Linked DNA regions of Homo sapiens: regions 1, 2 and 3 are each reported to be linked to region 4. Evidence: microRNA targets listed by miRTarBase, many of them from high-throughput screens and not tested one by one. Region 4 holds a microRNA gene; each other region holds the end of a gene's coding sequence.
The links. The annotated mature microRNA hsa-miR-1225-3p reads UGAGCCCCUGUGCCGCCCCCAG and lies in region 4 at 2,580-2,601, opposite strand. An mRNA with a match to its seed (bases 2 to 7 or 8) in the 3' UTR can be bound and repressed. Matches are read on the target gene's strand: a 7mer-m8 pairs with bases 2 to 8, a 7mer-A1 pairs with bases 2 to 7 and ends in A, and an 8mer does both.

Region 1: the mRNA of SLC2A1 is a reported target of hsa-miR-1225-3p. Seed matches in the 3' UTR shown: 7mer-m8 at 600-606.
Region 2: miRTarBase lists DTX2 as a target of hsa-miR-1225-3p. Seed matches in the 3' UTR shown: 7mer-m8 at 781-787.
Region 3: miRTarBase lists PSMG1 as a target of hsa-miR-1225-3p. Seed matches in the 3' UTR shown: 7mer-A1 at 3,836-3,842.

Annotation. Positions count from the first base shown.
Region 1 is chr1:42,922,340-42,927,527 of GRCh38, reverse strand. It overlaps SLC2A1 (solute carrier family 2 member 1), which reads left to right. Exons shown (of 10, transcript NM_006516.4): 10 at 287-2,175. The coding sequence ends at 487. Among named protein-coding and RNA genes, the nearest start is that of SLC2A1, 34 kb to the left of the region's middle. RefSeq lists enhancers at 1-474, 2,846-2,935, 3,356-3,485, 4,142-4,261.
Region 2 is chr7:76,504,956-76,510,149 of GRCh38, forward strand. DTX2 (deltex E3 ubiquitin ligase 2) reads left to right here. Exons shown (of 11, transcript NM_001102594.3): 11 at 419-1,036. The coding sequence ends at 646. It overlaps LOC124901675 (a long non-coding RNA gene), which reads right to left. Exons shown (of 2, transcript XR_007060388.1): 2 at 3,226-5,153. Among named protein-coding and RNA genes, the nearest start is that of UPK3B, 3.0 kb to the right of the region's middle. RefSeq lists a silencer at 3,979-4,184 and an enhancer at 5,062-5,194.
Region 3 is chr21:39,171,386-39,176,579 of GRCh38, forward strand. PSMG1 (proteasome assembly chaperone 1) reads right to left here. Exons shown (of 7, transcript NM_003720.4): 7 at 3,384-4,279. The coding sequence ends at 4,205. It also overlaps the pseudogene PCBP2P1. Among named protein-coding and RNA genes, the nearest start is that of PSMG1, 9.5 kb to the right of the region's middle.
Region 4 is chr16:2,087,616-2,092,615 of GRCh38, forward strand. MIR1225 (microRNA 1225) reads right to left here and starts at 2,669; the gene lies at 2,580-2,669. It overlaps TSC2 (TSC complex subunit 2), which reads left to right. Exons shown (of 42, transcript NM_000548.5): 39 at 248-326; 40 at 433-524; 41 at 612-710; 42 at 831-1,876. The coding sequence ends at 995. PKD1 (polycystin 1, transient receptor potential channel interacting) reads right to left here. Exons shown (of 46, transcript NM_001009944.3): 39 at 4,865-4,977; 40 at 4,432-4,573; 41 at 4,166-4,291; 42 at 3,808-3,982; 43 at 3,269-3,559; 44 at 3,059-3,193; 45 at 2,670-2,975; 46 at 1,093-2,579. The coding sequence ends at 2,112. It overlaps PKD1-AS1 (PKD1 antisense RNA 1), which reads left to right and starts at 3,821. Exons shown (of 3, transcript NR_135175.1): 1 at 3,821-3,999.

The DNA.
Region 1 (5,188 bases), not on the chromosome of region 4:
TCATTAGGAATCATGCTGAGGAGGAAACTGAGGGTAGGAAGCCCAGGTCACATGACCAAGAATGCTGACCTCAACTCCAGGGTTCTCCCCTTAGCCTTGAATGGTGCTCCTGGAGCCTGTTACATTCTAGGTACAAGCGTGGTCTCAGTTAATTATGATAGCATCCCTGGGTAGGTGGATGTTCCCTTTTCAGCTCAAAGGCCCAAAGGTAAAGTGACTTATCCAAAGTCCTACAGCCAGGATGTAGGGTCATGACTCCAACCAAGTGTGTCTGTGTGTCTTTCAGCAACTGTGTGGTCCCTACGTCTTCATCATCTTCACTGTGCTCCTGGTTCTGTTCTTCATCTTCACCTACTTCAAAGTTCCTGAGACTAAAGGCCGGACCTTCGATGAGATCGCTTCCGGCTTCCGGCAGGGGGGAGCCAGCCAAAGTGACAAGACACCCGAGGAGCTGTTCCATCCCCTGGGGGCTGATTCCCAAGTGTGAGTCGCCCCAGATCACCAGCCCGGCCTGCTCCCAGCAGCCCTAAGGATCTCTCAGGAGCACAGGCAGCTGGATGAGACTTCCAAACCTGACAGATGTCAGCCGAGCCGGGCCTGGGGCTCCTTTCTCCAGCCAGCAATGATGTCCAGAAGAATATTCAGGACTTAACGGCTCCAGGATTTTAACAAAAGCAAGACTGTTGCTCAAATCTATTCAGACAAGCAACAGGTTTTATAATTTTTTTATTACTGATTTTGTTATTTTTATATCAGCCTGAGTCTCCTGTGCCCACATCCCAGGCTTCACCCTGAATGGTTCCATGCCTGAGGGTGGAGACTAAGCCCTGTCGAGACACTTGCCTTCTTCACCCAGCTAATCTGTAGGGCTGGACCTATGTCCTAAGGACACACTAATCGAACTATGAACTACAAAGCTTCTATCCCAGGAGGTGGCTATGGCCACCCGTTCTGCTGGCCTGGATCTCCCCACTCTAGGGGTCAGGCTCCATTAGGATTTGCCCCTTCCCATCTCTTCCTACCCAACCACTCAAATTAATCTTTCTTTACCTGAGACCAGTTGGGAGCACTGGAGTGCAGGGAGGAGAGGGGAAGGGCCAGTCTGGGCTGCCGGGTTCTAGTCTCCTTTGCACTGAGGGCCACACTATTACCATGAGAAGAGGGCCTGTGGGAGCCTGCAAACTCACTGCTCAAGAAGACATGGAGACTCCTGCCCTGTTGTGTATAGATGCAAGATATTTATATATATTTTTGGTTGTCAATATTAAATACAGACACTAAGTTATAGTATATCTGGACAAGCCAACTTGTAAATACACCACCTCACTCCTGTTACTTACCTAAACAGATATAAATGGCTGGTTTTTAGAAACATGGTTTTGAAATGCTTGTGGATTGAGGGTAGGAGGTTTGGATGGGAGTGAGACAGAAGTAAGTGGGGTTGCAACCACTGCAACGGCTTAGACTTCGACTCAGGATCCAGTCCCTTACACGTACCTCTCATCAGTGTCCTCTTGCTCAAAAATCTGTTTGATCCCTGTTACCCAGAGAATATATACATTCTTTATCTTGACATTCAAGGCATTTCTATCACATATTTGATAGTTGGTGTTCAAAAAAACACTAGTTTTGTGCCAGCCGTGATGCTCAGGCTTGAAATGCATTATTTTGAATGTGAAGTAAATACTGTACCTTTATTGGACAGGCTCAAAGAGGTTATGTGCCTGAAGTCGCACAGTGAATAAGCTAAAACACCTGCTTTTAACAATGGTACCATACAACCACTACTCCATTAACTCCACCCACCTCCTGCACCCCTCCCCACACACACAAAATGAACCACGTTCTTTGTATGGGCCCAATGAGCTGTCAAGCTGCCCTGTGTTCATTTCATTTGGAATTGCCCCCTCTGGTTCCTCTGTATACTACTGCTTCATCTCTAAAGACAGCTCATCCTCCTCCTTCACCCCTGAATTTCCAGAGCACTTCATCTGCTCCTTCATCACAAGTCCAGTTTTCTGCCACTAGTCTGAATTTCATGAGAAGATGCCGATTTGGTTCCTGTGGGTCCTCAGCACTATTCAGTACAGTGCTTGATGCACAGCAGGCACTCAGAAAATACTGGAGGAAATAAAACACCAAAGATATTTGTCTCTAGAGGCTCAGCTGACAAAATCTGGGAGAAGTTTGCTTTTGTAACTACAGGCAGGCTTTTTTCTCCCTGACATGAAGAGGGGTTGTAAGAAGGGTGTGAGAAAGGAAAACTGGTACTTAGCAAATGGAAATACCTATATGTATTACCATTAGGTATAAAGAATCTATGAGGACATCCATCTGCATCTCAACAAAGAAGAGCAGGTTGCGAAGAATATGCCCTGCCTGAGCCTGGGGACAGGGCGGTTAACTGGTGAAGGGCTGAGGCCAGATGAAAGGAAGCCTTATCGTGTGCTCCCAAAAGACTTCTGTTGAAAGGAGTTATCCGGGTCCCCGTGCGGGAGGGGGTGCGGGGGCAGGGCAAGAAGGAGAGGCCGGGGGCCCAGGTATCTTACTCCTACGACGCTGCTCACTCAGGGCTGTCCCCACTGGACCAGAAAGGAAACAGACGGGGTGGGGTGGGGTGGGGTGGGGTGGGGATGGGTGGGAGCCCCGCGCCGGTGGCCGGACGCGAGGACTACAAGGCGGATGGCGGGCGGAGCTCATTCACACTCGAGGGCCCAGAACGTTGGCAGAGCCAGGCAGCACCCGAGCCCCGCCCCGGCCCAGAGGTTCAGACCCCGGTCTGAAAAGGCCCGACAATCCACTCGCAGCTGCCTCCCGCCCTGGGTCAGTATCGACGTCCCCGAGCACCGCCATTTCCCAAACTGCAAAATGTCAGCGCAGGCGCAGGGAAGCCGGCCCGCCCTCAGCGTGGTCCAGAGTGCCGCGACGGCACAGCTGCCGGTCGGTCCCCTGACGCCTTTCCTCTAGGGGCCGCAATCCACCCCGGGGTAGAAGATTTGGGGCCAAGGTTCGGCCGCCTACTGCCGGGGTCGATGGCGCATCCTCTCCAGACCTCACAGCGGTCCCCTAAGCCGGGCCACCGGCGGCGCACGGACACGATTGGGGATGGGCGGGGCCAGGTGGTTTCTCCACCAATCAGAGGCGCATTGTTGGGCCCGACGAGGGGCGGGCTCCAAGACTCCACCAATCACACCCTGGCGGTTCCAGGCGCTGGCCCTTGGGGACGACCTGGGCGCCTGCTTGCCAGGCGATGCGGTTTACTCTGGAGGGGGTGACGGTGACTTGTGTATCGCTGGGCATCCCTGGGGACGTAGCTCACCCGGGTTCCTATCCCGCGTAAGGTGACGTCTACGGTTTCTGACGAAAAGGGGTAAATAGATAACGGGACTGTTCTCCAGGCCACCATCTTTTCCCAGCAGTGCTTAGTTGTTTCACTGACAGTGTTATGAGATCTTTCATTTGAAATCTTAGGCGCAAAATCTCCTCTCCCTGGAAGCCTTCTGGATCAGGTTTTCCCGGGAACACTACATCGGCTTGTATTTCCTCCATCAAAGCGCTCTCCACGCTGTACCGGAATTGAGTGTCTTTCCACCACATTGGGGGCGGGGGCGGGGACGAGGGCGGGGGTTGGGGGGGTAGGGCAGCTGCCGCAGGAACAGGACTGAGCCATTCCTTGGTCCCCACTTCCCACCACAGACTCTGGTCAGGATTATTGAATGAATGAAGTAGAATTTAGAAGCCAAGAAGTTCTGAAATCTGAATTCTTACAGTGCAATTTTAGGTAGACGATCTGACAATTCAGGATGTATTTAATAATAGGGAAAGGATATCATTCTTTTCTGTCAACTACATTTTTAATGACCCCTTTTTCATTCTGTGATTTTTATTTCATAAGTCTCCTACAGTTCTGGTCCGTCTGTCCATTGCAATTGCTGGGCCTACTGCTGGCCACTCATCACCTCTCCCAGGATCACTGCAACTGCCTTCTCACTGATCTCTGTGCTTCCTGCTTCCTCCTCATTCTCCACACTGCAATCGATGATCTTCCTAAAATTCAAATCTAGTTATGTCTCTCTCCTACTTAAAAACCTTCCTGGGTTCCTCATTTCTCTCAGGATAATGTCTGTGTTTCTTAACCTGAAAATTCAAGTCATTCATGATCAAGCTCTCGACCTCACCACTGCCCCCACTCAACCCCAACCCTATCCTCCAGCCATCCATCCACTCTGTTCTCTGATCACGTTCTCCTTCTCCTCTGGGCCTCTGAAGTTTCCTCCGAAGAGACTGCCCTCCCACCTACTCCTGTTATCCACTAGGTGATCACACCCCACCACAGCTCAAGGAGTGAGAGAACAGAAGCTGCTAGTTGGGAGTCTGGCTCATCCATTCATTGGCACATTCCTGCCAACTAGTGGCTGTTTTGTGAACATTTTGATCAGGGCAGGGTTTAACCTCACACTTTCAGGGTTTCAGAGATACTACGTTGCTTTGGAGGGAACCCTTGACTGGTCCTACTACAACAAATCCATCTGGTAACCCTGACCCTGGCTTCCCAAATGATCTTCCTAAAAATGTGTTCTGACCACATTATTCTGTGGGTTAATACTCCCCACTTTCTCATGATAAAGCCCAAATTCCTTAACCACATTCTGGCCTTTGCAGACCTTATCTTCCAATACACTCCTTCCACACCCTAATCTCCAGTGAAGCTTGATGTACTCTATGTTCCCAGGACAACTCCTCACCCTAAAACTTTTTGTTCAATCCCCTTTCTCCTGGTCTGCCTTTGGTCTCTCCATAAGATTATCTGATATCAAAATACCAAATTAGCTGTCACTTTCTCTATGAAGCATTTGCTCAATTCTTTGAACCATTACCTAACTGAGTACACACTTGTTGCCACGTTTTCTCCTCAGTTGTGCTGGGTCTTGGAAAAAATATGGTTTCTGGAGTCAGAAATAGCTGATTTAAGATTCCTGCACTGCTATTTAGCTGAATAATCTTGGGCAAGTCACTTCACCTTTCTGATCTTCTGTTTCTTTTCTGTTGTAATATTAAAATGAAATAATATATATTGTAATGCAGATATCGGCTGGAGTTACATCATCTTCCCCCTTCCAAATGTTTCAGAAAGTCTGGTAATCACCCCCAAGGTTTCTGTGAATTCCCAGGGATCTTTTGTTTTCTT
Region 2 (5,194 bases), not on the chromosome of region 4:
AAAAGCTCTGGCCGTGTGAGAATGGGCTTGAGGTGGCGGAGCTGGAGGCGGGGAGAGGGCAGGGAGAGGGCAGGGAGGCCTGGATTCCACCAGGGAGGGTGGGTGGGCGGGCGCTCGTCCAGCAACGGCTGTGGAAGCAGGGAGGACTCGAGCATGGTGCCTGGGCATCAGGACCAAACGGATGGCAGTGCCAGGCACTGAGGCGGGGTGGGCTGGAGCCCAGGTTCATGTGGGATCCTAATGTACTATCCAGTGGGCAGTTTTGGGGTCCCTGCAGATGGGGTGAGTGCCAGGGAGTGGATGAGTCACCTGGGAGGGGCTGGGATGGGAAGAACATGGTGCCAACCCGTGCCTGCTCACTGAGCCCCTCTCACTCTCCGTCCCCTCCTTCCTCTTCCCCCTCCTCCTCCCCGGGCAGGTCCTAGAGCTCCTGAAGGTGGCCTGGAAGAGGCGGCTCATCTTCACAGTGGGCACGTCCAGCACCACGGGTGAGACGGACACCGTGGTATGGAACGAGATCCACCACAAGACAGAGATGGACCGCAACATTACGGGCCACGGCTATCCCGACCCCAACTACCTGCAGAACGTGCTGGCTGAGCTGGCTGCCCAGGGGGTGACCGAGGACTGCCTGGAGCAGCAGTGACCTCGCACCCCAGCACGCCCGCCTCTGGTGGCCACCCCGCTGCCCCATGGCTGGCTGGGTGGCCAGGCAGGAAGTGCCCAGCCCGAGAGGCTGGGAGGTTTGTTGAGGGTGTGGGGTGTGCCCCACCTGAAGCCGGGGCTCCCCCTGCCTGCCTCTCTCTCCTCCTCCCCTCTGGGAATTGGGCAGCCCTGGGCAGTTGTACTCATGGGGGCTTAGGATGCAGCTACCTCAGTGCGCAGGGCCCGTCTGTCCTCTGGGGGCTGCTTCGGGCCCGCGGTGCTCGGGGCCTGGTGTGGGGCGAGTAGAGACTTCCCCAGCCTGGACGGGCGTGGGTTCTGGGTCAGCTTCTTTTACCTCAATTTTGTTTGCAATAAATGCTCTATAGCCAAAGCCAGCAGGTCCTGAGTGTGTGCATGCATGCGTGTGTGCGCACTTGTGTGTGTGTGTGCCCCCCCCCACTTCCTGCATCAGAGCAAGAGGGGGTTCCATGGGCTCATCGGCTCCCATTTGATAACTGAAGAACAGGCCACAGCCAGGCATGGAGGAGCCCACGGTACTGGGCTGTGCGGCCTCCACATGCCCTACACTGATCTCCCTGCCATGCCAGAGGCTGTCACCCCAGAGCACCAGCTGTCACCTTTGTGGCCCTGGGGTTGTGGTTCACAAAATGCCATTCACTTAGGATTGGAGCTGCTGTCTCTGTTTTACTGATGTGGAAACAGGTTCAAAGGTGCAATGACTTGAACCAGGCATGGTGACGCATGCCTGTTATCCCAGCTGCTCAGAAGGTCGAGACAGGAGGCTCACTGTAGTCCAGACATTTGAGACCAGCCTGAGCAAAATTGCAAGACCTCATCTCTAAAAAAAAAATTAGGCCAGGTGCAGTGGCTCACGCCTCTAATCCTAGCACTTTTGGGAGGCTGAGACAGGTGGATCACCTGAGGTCAGGAATTTGAGACCAGCTTGGCCAACATGGCAAAACATCGTCTCTACTGAAAATACGAAAATTAGCCAGGCGTGGTGGCATGCAGCTGTAATCCCAGCTACTCAGAAGGCTGAGGCAGGAGAATCATTCGAACCTGGGAGGTGGAGGTTGCAGTGAGCCAAGGTCGTGCCACTGCACTCCAGCCTGAGCCACAGAGCGAGATTCCGTCTCAAAAAAATAAATAAATAAGCCAGGCATGGTGGCACCTGTCTGTAGTCCCAGCGGTCGGGAGGCTGAGGCGGGAGGATCGCTTGAGCCCAGGAGCTCAAGGCTGCAGTGAGCTATGATTGCACCACTGCACTCCAGCCTGGGCAACAGAGCAAGATCCCATCTGTAAAATCATAATAAAAAGAGACAGATTGAATGCTTGGCTAGGTAGGTGGAATCCAGGCCAGGGTTGATCTGACACCATTCTCAAAGTTCTAATTCTTCCTCCTCTTGGAAGGAGGATCAGATATCCCCAGTCAAGATCTTGCTGCTTGTCCGGGAGGAGTAGTTTGGGCCTGGGACCAGAGGGGGACGGTAGGGCCACCTCATTCATGGCTGTGGAAAGCAGAGGCACTTTGGCCTTGGTGAGCCCCTTTCTCTGTTAAACCTATTTTACAACATGTTGGTATAAAGATGAATATATTAATGTATACTAGAGGATTTTCTCTCACCTAAAGGTTCATTTTTTTCCCTTCTGATTTTAAAAGAAATTAAAAATGTATGTCAGCTCTTATAGTGTGGGCCCAGGGCACTGTGCCTAATGGTAAGTTGGTCCAGGGTAAAAAGGGTAGTGAGGTCTCTCTAGAAGACCCCAGTGTTGGCCGGGTACAGTGGCTCAGGCCTGTCATCCCAGCACTTTGGGAGGCTGAGGCGGGAGGATCACAAGGTCAGGAGTTCGAGACCAGCCTGGCCAACGTGGTGAAACCCCCTCTACTAAAAATACAAAAATTAGCTGGGCATGGTGGTGTGCACCTACAATTCCAGCTAACTTGGGAGGCTGAGGCAGGAGAATTGCTTGAACCCGGAAGGCAGAGGTTGCAGTGAGCCGAGATCACGCCACTGTACTCCAGCCTGGCGACAGAGCAAGACTCCGTCTCAAAAAATATATATAAAAACAAAACCATGAGATGCCACACTACACCCATTACGATGGCTATACTAAAACAAAAAGCAGTGTTGGAGAGGATGTCGAGAAATGGGACCCTCATCCACTGCTACTGGGAATGTAAAATGCAGCCACTTTGGCAAACAGAACCTCAGAAAGCAGCATTAGCATATGACCACAGTTCCACTCCTAGGTACATTCTCAAGAGAATTGAAAATGTGCCCACAGAAGCCTGCGCACGGATGCTCATGGCAGCATTATTTACAGTAGCCCCACAGTGGAAAAAAACAAATTCTGCATCCACTGATGAATGAAAGTGTGATACGTTCACAGGATGGAATATTACTCAACTGTGAAAAGGAATGAAGCAATCACAGTCGAGGAGGAACCTTGAAAAAGTAACAAAAGCCAGACACAAAAGGTCACATGTTGTGTGACTGCATCCTATGAAATGTCCATTACGGGCAAAACCATGGAAACAAGAAGTAGCTTAGTCGTCACTGGGGACGGGAGAATGGAGAGTTACCGTTTAATGGGTGTAGTGTTTCGTTTTGGGGAAGTAAGAAGGTTCTGGAATTGGTGATGGTTGCACAACCTTGTTGATATACTAAAAGCTGTTGGGCGCTGTGGCTCATGCCTGTAATCTGGGCACTTTGGGAGGCTGAGGCAGGAGGATCCCTTGAGCCAGGAGTTCAAGACCAGGCTGGGCAACACAGTGAGACCCTGTCTCTACAAGAAATATATTTTTATTATATTTTTTTTGAGACAGAGTCTCACTCTGTCATCCACGCTGTAGTGCGGTGGTGCGATCTCAGCTCACTGCAACCTCCGCCTCCCGGGTTCAAGTCATTCTCCTGCCTCAGCCTCCCGAGTACTTGGGATTACAAGCACGTTCCACCACACCCGGCTAATTTTTGTAATTTTAGTCGAGACAGGGTTTCACCATGTTCGCCAGGCTGGTCTCGAACTCATGACCTCAAGTGACCTGCCCACCTCGGCCTCCCAAAGTGCTGGGATTACCGCCGTAAGTCACTACACCCAGCCTCAAAAACTATATTTTTAAAAATTAGCAGCTGGGCGCAGTGGCTCATGCCTGTAATCCCAGCACTTTGGGAGGCCAAGGCAGGTAGATCGCGAGGTCAGGCGTTCGAGACCAGCCTGGCCAAGTTGGTGAAACCTCATCTCTACTAAAAATACAAAAATTAGCTGGGCATGGTGGTAGGTGCCTGTAGTCCCAGCTACTAGGGAGGCTGAGGCAGAAGAATTGCTTGAACCCAGGAGGTGGAGGTTGCAGTGAGCAGAGATCACGCCATTGCACTCCAGCCTGGGCGACAGGGTGAGACTCCATGTCTCAAAAAAAAAAAAAAATAGCCAGGCACGGTGGCTCACGCCTGTAATCCCAATACTTTAGGAGGCCAAGGCAGGAGATTTGCTTGATCCTCCCAGGAGTTAGAGATCAGCCTGGGCAACATAGCAAGATCCTGTTTCTATAAAAAATACATTTTTAAAAATTGGCCAGCCGGGCGCAGTGGCTCACACCTGCAATCCCAGCGCTTTGGGAGGCTGAGGTGGGTGGATCACCTGAGGTCAGGAGTTCGAGACCAGCCTCACCAACGTGGAGAAACCCTATCTCTACTAAAAATACAAAATTAGACAGGTGTGGTGGCACATGCCTGTAATCCCAGCTACTCAGGAGGCTGAGGCAGGAGAATCACTTGAACCCAGGAGGTGGAGGTTGCGGTGAGCCAAGATCGAGCCATTGTACTCCAGCCTGGGCAACAAGAGTGAAAACTCCGTTTCAAAAAAAACAAAAAAAAAATTGGCGGGGGTGCCAGGCACGGTGGCACATGCCTGTAATCCCAGCACTTTGGGAGGCCAAGGCGGGTGGATCACTTGAGATCAGGAATTTGAGACCAGCCAAGCCAACATGGTGAAACCCCGTCCCTACTAAAAATACAAAAATTAGCTGGCCGTGGGGCACATGCCTGTAATCCCAGCTACTTGGGAGGCTGAGGCAGGAGAATCGCTTGAACCCAGGAGGCGGAGGTTGCAGTGAGCCCAGATCACGCCACTGCACTCCAGCCTGGACAACAAAGGAGACTCCATCTTAAAAAAAAATTAATTAAATAAATTTTAAAAATTAGCCGGAGCATGGTGTTGTGTGCCTGTGGTTCCAGCTACTGGGAAGGCTGAGGTGGGAGGATTAACTGAACCTGGGAGTTTGAGGCTCCAGTTAGCTGTGAACTGACCTCCCTGGGTGACATATATATATTTAAGCCACTGAGCTGTGAAGGTTGTGAAGGTATGTGAGTTATGTCTTGAAAAATACACACATAGTGAGCGCCAAATCCCGGGAGTAGTGTTTAAGTGGCGGGCTTGTCAGCTGTCAAGGGCTCTGCAGCCCTTTCTCTGAATCCAAGTTCTTCTTCCTGTGGACAGGGAACCCAGGCTGCGAACTGGGAGGATGTGG
Region 3 (5,194 bases), not on the chromosome of region 4:
GCACTGAACCCCAGCGTTGCTATCTACTGTAGGAAAACTAGATTGTTGCATTGTCAACTGGTGCAGCTTGGTCAACTCTAGAAGTGGTCCCTCCAGGTCACAGTTGAGGCACATGGACGAAGTGGTGTGGAGAAAGCAAGCTCACACTGTCGCTGCCTGTGCTGTACCTGTCCTGATCACCTGCAAAGATCACCGGAGAATTGGACAGCTTGGACCAGTATGGGATGGCCATGCGTTTGGGGGAAGACTCCAACACCACACAGACCTGTCCAACACACTCAATGATGGACTGCGGAATCCCAGCGATAGTGATGGCTCAGTCAGCAGCGTTGGGGAGCATATCCCCTGCCACCTGGACCTGAGCCCTGTACTCTCTCGTATTGCCTTGATCTTGCAACCACCTTTTCCAATGAGCCACAGTGACTAGCAGGGACCACCAGCATCAGGGTGACCAGGGGGTCCACTGGCAGCTGTGCTAGTGGTCACAGAGCTACTGATATCCTCTTCCAATCTTGCTTTGAAGATGGCGCTAGTGGGTCCAGCCAAGATGATAATTCTCTCAGAACAACTCCCTTCTGAGATGCTGATACATGCACCACTCTCCTCATGCATCTTAACTGATTCTCCTCTTTCTGATGATACTGCCAACTTCCTTTCCATGCATAAGTAGCCAGGTGGTGAGAATGACATTTAATCCAATTTCAATCATACCAGTGTCCATATCAAGCAGGGCTATGGGGAGCTGGACTTGGAGTGGTCAAGTCTTTGGCCAGTGGGGATGAAAACCAAGAACTCCAGGCAGGAGGCAACTCAGGGAAAAAGGAGAGCAGGCAGGGTGGGGCAGGGGTGGAACAACAGGGGTGGGCAGAAAGGCAACGAGAAGGAGGAGAAAAGGTGGTGGAGGAAGAGAAAGAAGGGAGAGACCTCAGGGCAGGTGGGAGAGAGCACAGCCTGTAGCTGCTCAGGCTGCTGCCTCTGCTGGTGTCAATCTCAGCTTCCTGTAACTTTTCTGCTTTCTAAACTTTTATTTTTTTAACTTTTTGACTCTTTTCTAATAACTTAGCTTAAAACACAAATACACTGTACAGCTGTACAGAAATATTTTTTCTTTATATCCTTATTCCATAAGCTTTTTTCCATTCAAAAGTTTTGTTTTTTGCTTTTTGTTAAAAACTGAGACACAGCACACACATTAGCCTAGGCCTACACAGGGTCAGAATCATCAATATCTCACTGTCTTCCGCCTCCATATCTTGTCCCGCTAGAAGGTCTTCAGGGACAGTAACACACATGGAACTGTCATCTCCTGTGATGACAATGTCTGCTTCTGGATACCTCTGGAAGGGCCTGCCTGAGACTGTTTTACAGTTCGCTTTTTTGTTACGAGTAGAAGGAATACACTCTAAAATAGCAAAAAATAGGATGTACATAAACCAGTAGCATAGTCATTTATTGTAAGTATTATGTACTGTTCATAGTTGTATGTGCTGGACCTTTAAACTGGCAGCACAGTAGGCGTGTTTTCACCAGCAACACCACAAACACAAGTAACACATGAGGTCTGACCTTAGGATGGCTACCACAGCCTAGGCGATAGGAATTTTTCAGTTCCATACGATCTTATGGACCCCTGTCTACATGCGGTCCGCCAGTGGTATGTCCTTATGTGGTGCATGACTATACACATCCTACTGGTTCTCTCTGGACTGCTCTAATATACTGGGCATATACTGTCTTGTCTGTGTCATCTGTTACTTCTCTATTTCTGTCCTGCATCTTAGGACACCAACTCAAGTTAGTCCTCCACATAATGGCTTTGTATTATACCCTATTTTATATATATGTAATATATATACAACTTAGATCACATACTATTTGTTGTTATTTTATATAATACAGATTTTAAAGTTGAAGTTTTGCTTCTGTTAAAATCTTTTCCATGAAATTTTTTAAATTTCCTTTCAGCTAGCTGCTGCTTCTCATACATCTCATTATTTGCTTTTGGAAAAAGCAGGGGTTCCTGACTTTTAAAAAATAGCTGTTTCCTACAGTCATGTTTTTCAACAGAATGCTCTTCTTCTGCATTTTTAATGCTGTTTCTATCCTTCGTATTGCTTGTTTTCTTCAGCTACTCTCCTTTGAATGGGAAACCTACCCAGGCCTGATGTCTGCTCCGGCTAGACTCGAACTCCTGGGCTCAAGCGATCCTCCTGCCCCAGCATCCCAGGTAGCTGGGACTACGGATAAGCACCGCTGTGCCTGGCTTGGTATCTGGCCCTAACGTGGCTCTGCTGCACTGACAGCCAACCTCCTGCACCTGCTGCCTGCTTCTTATCACAAGAAGAGGTTTACTCCTGGACAGTCTGAAGCAATTATGATTCTTTCCTTACCAAAATTATTAAAAACTACAATGCCCAGAGTTATCTGCTTCTAGGGTTCTCCCAGGATTACTGCCGATGCAAAACTTGTCCCCCAACTACTTCCACTCTTAGCCATTTGACACTGCCAAGCTCTGTGGTTCTCAAGTTAGCAAGAGGAAGTACAAGAAGGAATGAAGACTGACAGCTCCAGCTGCCCCCAGAGCAGCTCCCCACTCCTTTCTTACCACATCACCGTCAGCATCTTTGAGGTGGGGCACACAAAGGTGTGTCAACATGGAAATACCACCTTACAGTTCTTCAAAAGCATTCTTATATCATTATTCTCACAATTCAGCAAAGCAAGCAGAGAATTTCCTTCATTAAGCAGATGAAAACCTGGACCCCAAGGGAAGTAGATAACCACCCAGGGAGTACTGTCACCAGTATTATCTGTAGTTTACAGCTGAGAAAACTGTTGCTCAGGAAGCTTCAAGGCATCTGCCCAAAGTCACCTGGCCTGTAAGGGCTGGCCTGGGATTGAACATAGTCTGCTTTTCCAAGATCACTCTTCCTTACTTACCACACTGACCCTCAGCACAAGAAGAGGATTAGCTCCAGCTAGGACCAGATTCCAGGTCATATGATGTTACCTCAGGGCTCTGCAGGCACATTTCTGAATGAATGAAAACTTTTTTTGCAACAAGGGAAATGCTTAGATTTCTGCCTTCGGGATATATTCATAAGCATACTATGCACAAGACTTCCAATTCTTGATTATGTAAAGGAAACCAAGTTTACTCAAGAAGGAGTTAGAACACAGTATCTCCTTACCATACTTCTAATCATTACCAAAAACAGTAAATGAACTGGAACTAGAAAATATAAATGGGTAAGTACTCTAAATCTATAGTATGTAAATGATTCAATAACTAAAAAGGTGAAAAAGAAAGCAGAAGAGATAAGAAGCATTTAACTCCACCATTTTAAAATTTATTTTCATGAATGCAGTTCAGTTTGTGGTCCTGTGAAGTTGTGTGGCTACTCCGGGTTCATGATTCCATTCACACTCCTAATGATAACACATGACTGTAAGAGAACTGCTGACACGCGCAGAGCCAGCCTTGAAAGAGAGCCCTGGGAAAGTCTGGGTGAAGAGGCTATCTGTCAGATATTACTAAAAAGTGAGGACATACACATTTCTGTTTCATTTTTAGTAAATATATAATTTTGTTACTTTGTCATCAATTTTTACCCACAAGATAAAAAAAACTGCAGGACTCCTAAAATATCCAGAAACTTTCCACATATTAAGAATCACCAACAGGTCAATGAATAGTTACACCTAATTAACTACACTTTGCCACATGAATACCATCTGCTGATATCTGTAGCTTTGAAAAATTTAACTAAAGTTGGGCACAGTGGCTCACACCTGTAATCCCAGCATTTTGGGAGGCCGAGGCGGGGGAAATGCTTGAGCCCAGGAGGTCGAGGATGCAGTGAACCATGATAGCACACTGCACTTCAGCCTGGGCAACAGAGCAAGACCCAGCCTCAAAAAATAAATAAATAAATAAATAAGATAAAAATTTAACTATAGTACCTTAAAATATTCAAATACAACAATACTCCCACCTAGTGGATAAAAGGAAAATGCTTGGCTTATTTTGGTTGTGAATAATACCACCATAAATAAGGAATTAAAACTACAATTAATTTTTTACAATTTTATTCCGTTTCATCATTCTCAAAATATATCCCCCAAAAGTAATCTACAAAAGAGTGCAGGCTGCTCCCCTTAAAGGAATGGACAAGTAATATACACTACAAAACAATGTTTAAGATCATGTATAAATGTTACTCTGAATCTCATTTGTTGTCATCAATTTCTTTAGTATCTCAGTGCTTTGGGGAATATTCTGAAAGGAGAGAAAAAAGTGAATACAGTGAGACCCCAGGGATTCAGGCAGAGGCAACACCCCTCCCTCCACGACCAACAATCTCCACACTCGAGACTTAAAAACAGCCATGGGACAGGCGTGGCCTTTACTCTCCTTCTCAACGAAAAGGCAAGTGGGAAAGTCAGTTCAACAGGCCCTTTCCCTGCCACACTCGCCGATGATCTCCTGGCCTCCGATGGTCTCCTGGCCTCTGGAGGAAGTCTATGCTCTAACCCGCCCGACCTTCCCCACAAGATGTCTTCCTCCCCTCTCCACCAACACCACACTCCTCACGGCTCTCCTCACACTTTCCCACTCTGCTCACACTGCTTCCCTCTGCACACTTCTACCCAAGATTCATCCATCTTTCAAATCCAACTAAACTGCCACACAGGAAGAACTCAAAATAATTCCACCTTATTGAAAATACCACTTTTAAAAGGTCAGAAACAACGAACTGACTCAGGCTGATGTAATTGGTCATTAAGAAAACAGCACCCTGCAGAACCACCATCTTACCCTCCTGCTAATCATTATCTCCAAAGCAAAAATGAAAATGCTGAGTTAAATTTCCCCTTGAAAGTATATTCATAAAAGCTGAGTTTCCTTAAGCCCCATATGACAGATGATTTCCAAGTCTCTGAACAAGTCCAAGCGTTTATGACACACCTGTGTGCTACACACAGTCCTACAGCAGTAAACAAAACAGCCCAGCCCCTGCCCATGGGAACTCATCTCTGAGTTAAGTGGGATGAGGCAATTGGCTATTTAAACAAACAAGACGATCAGCATATACTTTGAAAGAGATGCTAAAAATAAATTAACTCCATGTGTCAGAAAGATTACCCTGGATTCTAGCTAATTTGCAAGATAAGCTTGCAGTATACTAAATCA
Region 4 (5,000 bases):
GAGGTGCCCCAGCAATTAGAGGTGTCTTGCCTGTGGCTGCAGCATATGTGGGTGCTGCGCCCAGATGTGGAGGGGGCTTGGCCTGGGGGAGGCCAGACAAACACAGCCCCGCTGCCAGAGGGGAAAGTTCAGGGGCAGATGCTGCCCATGGAGCTGACAGGTGTCTAGCAGTGCAACCAGGCAGTAGCCGAGATCAGCCTTCAGCACACGCTGTGTGCGGGGATGACCCTTTCTCTTGTCCGGGCAGGGCCAGTTCAACTTTGTCCACGTGATCGTCACCCCGCTGGACTACGAGTGCAACCTGGTGTCCCTGCAGTGCAGGAAAGGTAGGGCCGGGTGGGGCCCTGCAGTGCAGGAAAGGTAGGGCCGGGTGGGGCCCTGCAGTGTGGCGCCAAGAGCCCTGGGCCTGGCGTGACCACCAAGTCTCCCCAGACATGGAGGGCCTTGTGGACACCAGCGTGGCCAAGATCGTGTCTGACCGCAACCTGCCCTTCGTGGCCCGCCAGATGGCCCTGCACGCAAATGTGAGTGGGGGTGGGTCCAGGCGTGAGCTGGTGGGACAGGCCCAGGTGCCACCTGATAGTGAGCTCACCCCCTGCCTACGTCCCCAGATGGCCTCACAGGTGCATCATAGCCGCTCCAACCCCACCGATATCTACCCCTCCAAGTGGATTGCCCGGCTCCGCCACATCAAGCGGCTCCGCCAGCGGGTAGGGAATATGGGGCTCCCTCAGCGGGGTGTGCTGGCTGCCCAAGCTGTGGGGCGGGTGTGTGGGCAGAGCGGTTGCCACGCCTCCCAGACTTACTGCCCAAGCCGCCTCTGCCTTCAGATCTGCGAGGAAGCCGCCTACTCCAACCCCAGCCTACCTCTGGTGCACCCTCCGTCCCATAGCAAAGCCCCTGCACAGACTCCAGCCGAGCCCACACCTGGCTATGAGGTGGGCCAGCGGAAGCGCCTCATCTCCTCGGTGGAGGACTTCACCGAGTTTGTGTGAGGCCGGGGCCCTCCCTCCTGCACTGGCCTTGGACGGTATTGCCTGTCAGTGAAATAAATAAAGTCCTGACCCCAGTGCACAGACATAGAGGCACAGATTGCAGTCAGACAGCTCTTTTATTGACTTTGTCTGCTTGGTGCGGGGGTTGGGGGGGTGTCGAGGCTCTAGAAGCGGCCATGCCCACAGAAGTGGTACACAGAAGCAGGCACAGCCAGCTCCGAGGGCCTTGAGGCTGCCTGGGCCATACAGCACACTCGCGCGTGCGCGCGCGCACACACACACACACACAGTCACCTTCCTCCACCCTGGGAGCCAGCCCCCAGGAGGAGTCTTTTCCTCTAACCACCCTGGGGTCCTCTGACATGCCTAGTCCTGCTACTTGCCCAGACCTGATGCCAGCAGGCCTGGGCGCTGCTCTCTTGCTACCTGGCCTGGGGCAAGGGAGGATGACAAGGCCTCTGGGGTGATGAGAGTGCCTGGCAGACAGCTGTGCCCCCAGCACCGGCCCAAGGCCAAGCTCGCATCCAAGCAGCAGCCGGGCTGCCATAACGCCACCACACCTACCAAGCGCAGCAGGTGTTGGGGGAGGCCAGCTCTGGGCGCAGGCCCCTCAGCCCTAGTGAAAATAGTGACATACAAAAATATACACATTTTAACACCATATAAATTACTGACACGAGACACACAGTGAGACGGTGCAGGGAGTACGGTAGGAACTGGAGAGGTAATAACTTAGGGGCAGGGTGGCGGCGGTGCAGGCTAACCCTCCCTGAAGCCAGCAGCCTTAGCAGTGGGGGACATCTGCCCAGGGGGTGGGGCCGGGCACAGCCCGCTGTACCTGAGGACTCGGGGAAATAAATTAGCATCTCAGAGGCTAGAAACCGTCCAATACTGCTGTGTCCTTCCCAAGGGAGCTGGGGAGGGGACCCTGGGTCCTGGTTGGCCACACAGCCTCTTTAAAGTGCTGAAGCCCACAGACAGACAGATGCCCCTGCCTGCTCTCTGGGGAACCTACGTGCAGCCATTCTGCCTGGCCCTCGGCCTTGACAGCGGCAGAAAGTAATACTGAGCGGTGTCCACTCCGACTCCACGGCCCACCCCCGCCAGGAAGGAGGACTAAGTGCTGCTGGGGTGGACCTTGTTCTTGGCCCGAAGGGGTGTCCTGCTGGGGCCAGTGGCCAGGTCCACACCCCGACTGGCCCGGGCAAGGCGGCTGGGCAGTGCTGGCCGCAGGCCCGGGGATGGGCCACGGGAAGATCCGGCGGGCGCCCGGCTGCTCCTGCGGCCTTGCAGGCTGTGCAGCTGCTGCTCCAGCTGGTAGACGTCCTCTGTGGCCTGGTTGAGTCGGTCAAACTGGGTGAGCAGGGCCTCGAACACGGCTTGGAGGCGGGAGGGCTCAGGCTCACACCTTGTCCCCAGCCGGCCCAGGCTCACGCTCAGCCCATCCAGCTGGCTGGAGGAGGTGGAGGGGTGCGAGGCATCGGAGCCAGCGCTGGGTGGGGGCACATCCGGGGATACCTTGGAGCCCCTGGAGGAGCGAGAGGGCAGCGGCTCCATCCCTTCAAAGCGGACTTTGTGGCGGAACTGGGGGCGGCACAGGGGCTCAGTCAGTCCGGCTGCACCCTGGGCAGAGCCCAGGGCGTGTCCCTCTCCCCCCCACTGGGCCGTACCCACCTCCTTGACCTTGCTGAGGCCCATCCAGAGGCGCAGCCTGCGCAGGAACAACTCCACCATCTCGTAGTCCTGGGGCTCCCAGGCCGGCCGGTACAGCTCTCCACGCAAGGCGTGGTAGCGCCAGCGGAGAATAACAGCCCCCAGCCGTAGGGCGCCCCACAGCCGCAGTGCCCAGAGCCCCACACACAGCAGGGGTGACAGGTGCCAGGACTCGGCAGGACACAGGGTAGAGAGCCCAGTCCCAGGGCACAGCACCAACAGGGCCTGGGCCACGCTCCAGAGGGAGTCCACACAGGAAGACACGAGCTGCGGGGAAGGCGACACCAGTGAGGGCGTACAGCTGAGCTGAGCTGAGCTAAGACGCCCTCCCCGGCCGCGCAGTCACCTACCAGGATGGCCAGCTGGGCGTAGGCTACCCCGAGCACCACCAGGCCCAAGGTGACCCCCAGGAGCTCTGGCAGAGCTCGGCATAATGTCTTGCCAAAGACGGACCACTGGCGCACGAAGCGTAGCTGCTGGGCAGCCTGCGGACGAGAAATCTGTCTGCTTGCAGCCCTGGGGTGTGCGCCCAGCCCCGCGCCCACCGGCCCAGCCCTCACCTTGACCAAAAGCAGGAAGAGCAGCGAGGCCGCCAGGCCACGGGCTGCGGAGCTCAGCTGCGCCACCTGGTCGAAGCTAGTGAAGCGGCGCGGGCGGCCGCGCACGAAACGGGTCCACTGGCGGTCAGCGGCACCCAGCTGGGCGAGGCGTACCAGTGCCGTGGCCGCCGTCAGCGCCACCAGCAGCCACCGCGCCCAGGCTCCGAGCCGCAGCACGCGCCAGCGCCCTTCCCTGTGCCAAGTACGGGCCTCGGCCACGGCGAAGTGCACGGCGAACAGCAGCAGGCACACCTGTGGGGGGCGCGGTCAGGAGGGCGGGAGGGACGCTGCCGGGGCGGGGCCCTGCGAGGGGGCGGGACGCTGCCGGGGCGGGGCCCTACGAGGGGGCGGGACGCTGCCGGGGCGGGGCCCTGCGAGGGGGCGGGACGCTGCGAGGGGGCGGGGCGCTGCGAGGGGTGAGACGCTGCCGGGGCGGGGCCCCGCGAGGGGGCGGGACGCTGCCGGTGGGAGGCGCGGGGTCTGGCCGGGGACGGGCGTACCGAGGTGAGCAGAGGCAGCGAGAGGCCCGCGCTGAGGCGGCGCAGCGCAAAGGGGCGGACGCTGAGGGCGGCCAGGGCGCGGCCGGCCGCCGGGAACTCGAGGCGCAGCGTGACGGCGGCGTGCAGCCCCACGGCCGGGCTGTAGCGCGTGAGCTCCAGGAACACAGCGCGGCTCCTGCGCAGAGGGTGCGGGTCAGTAGGAGCGGGTGGCAGGGCGGGAGCTGCGGGGACCGCGCAGTGCAGGCGTGGCTGAGGGGCTGTGGAAGCCGCCTAGGCCAGCGGGGGCCGGAGGAGTGAGGGTGGGCTCCTGGCTGGTGACTGCGGCCACCCCGGAGAGGGCAGGGGAGGGAGCTCCCACCTGTTGTCCAGCCAGTTGTGCAGCTGCAGGAAGCGCAGCCGGTCGCGGCTCTCCTCCAGGCTCAGGCCCAGCTCCTGCACGTAGCCCCCGCTGTCATACACGGCACAGGAGCCCCAGGACCATGCCCTGCCGGAGAGGGGTGGCGTGGGTGCCGCACCCCAGCCCTTCCGGCACCCCGGAGCCAGGCTGGTCAGGAGGCCGCGGCACTCCTGGAGAACTACTCCCTTGTCCTTGGCGTAGACGCCCGGGGCCCTCGCTCTGCTCACCCCAGCAGATCCGGCGCTGAATAGGCCCACGTCCCCGAGCCATTGTGAGGACTCTCCCAGCCAACGTCGTAATCGCTGGTGCTGAAGCCTCCTGCGGCCGAGCACGTGTGGACCCTGGGGCCGGGAGGGTCTGGGTAGAGTGCTGAAACACACAGAGCCCCAGGCCGGGGCCAGGGCCTCATCAAAACCCAACAGGAGTGTTTCCTGCTGGCCAGCTCGCCTGAGCTCTGGTTCGGCGCCACCCCAGGGAACCCTCCCAGCAGCCATCAATTAGACAACGTTACCATCTCTCATATACAGAGAAGGAAACGGCGGTGTTAAGAGGGCAAAGGTCACACAGCTAGGGAGCAGGGCTGATGCCAGAGCTCCGCTAAAGGCTGCTCTCTCAACAAGAGGAACGATTTAAGTCTTGGGGCACGCCCTGCCAGCTCACCTTCCTGCAGCCGCACCTGCCGCAGCCGTGGGGGCCCCAGCTCTGGGCTGGACTGGTTCCCGTGGACGTAGGGCAGCAGCACGTGGGCCATCCATGGCCAGAGCTCCTCAGACCTGCCACAGCATCAGTCACACGC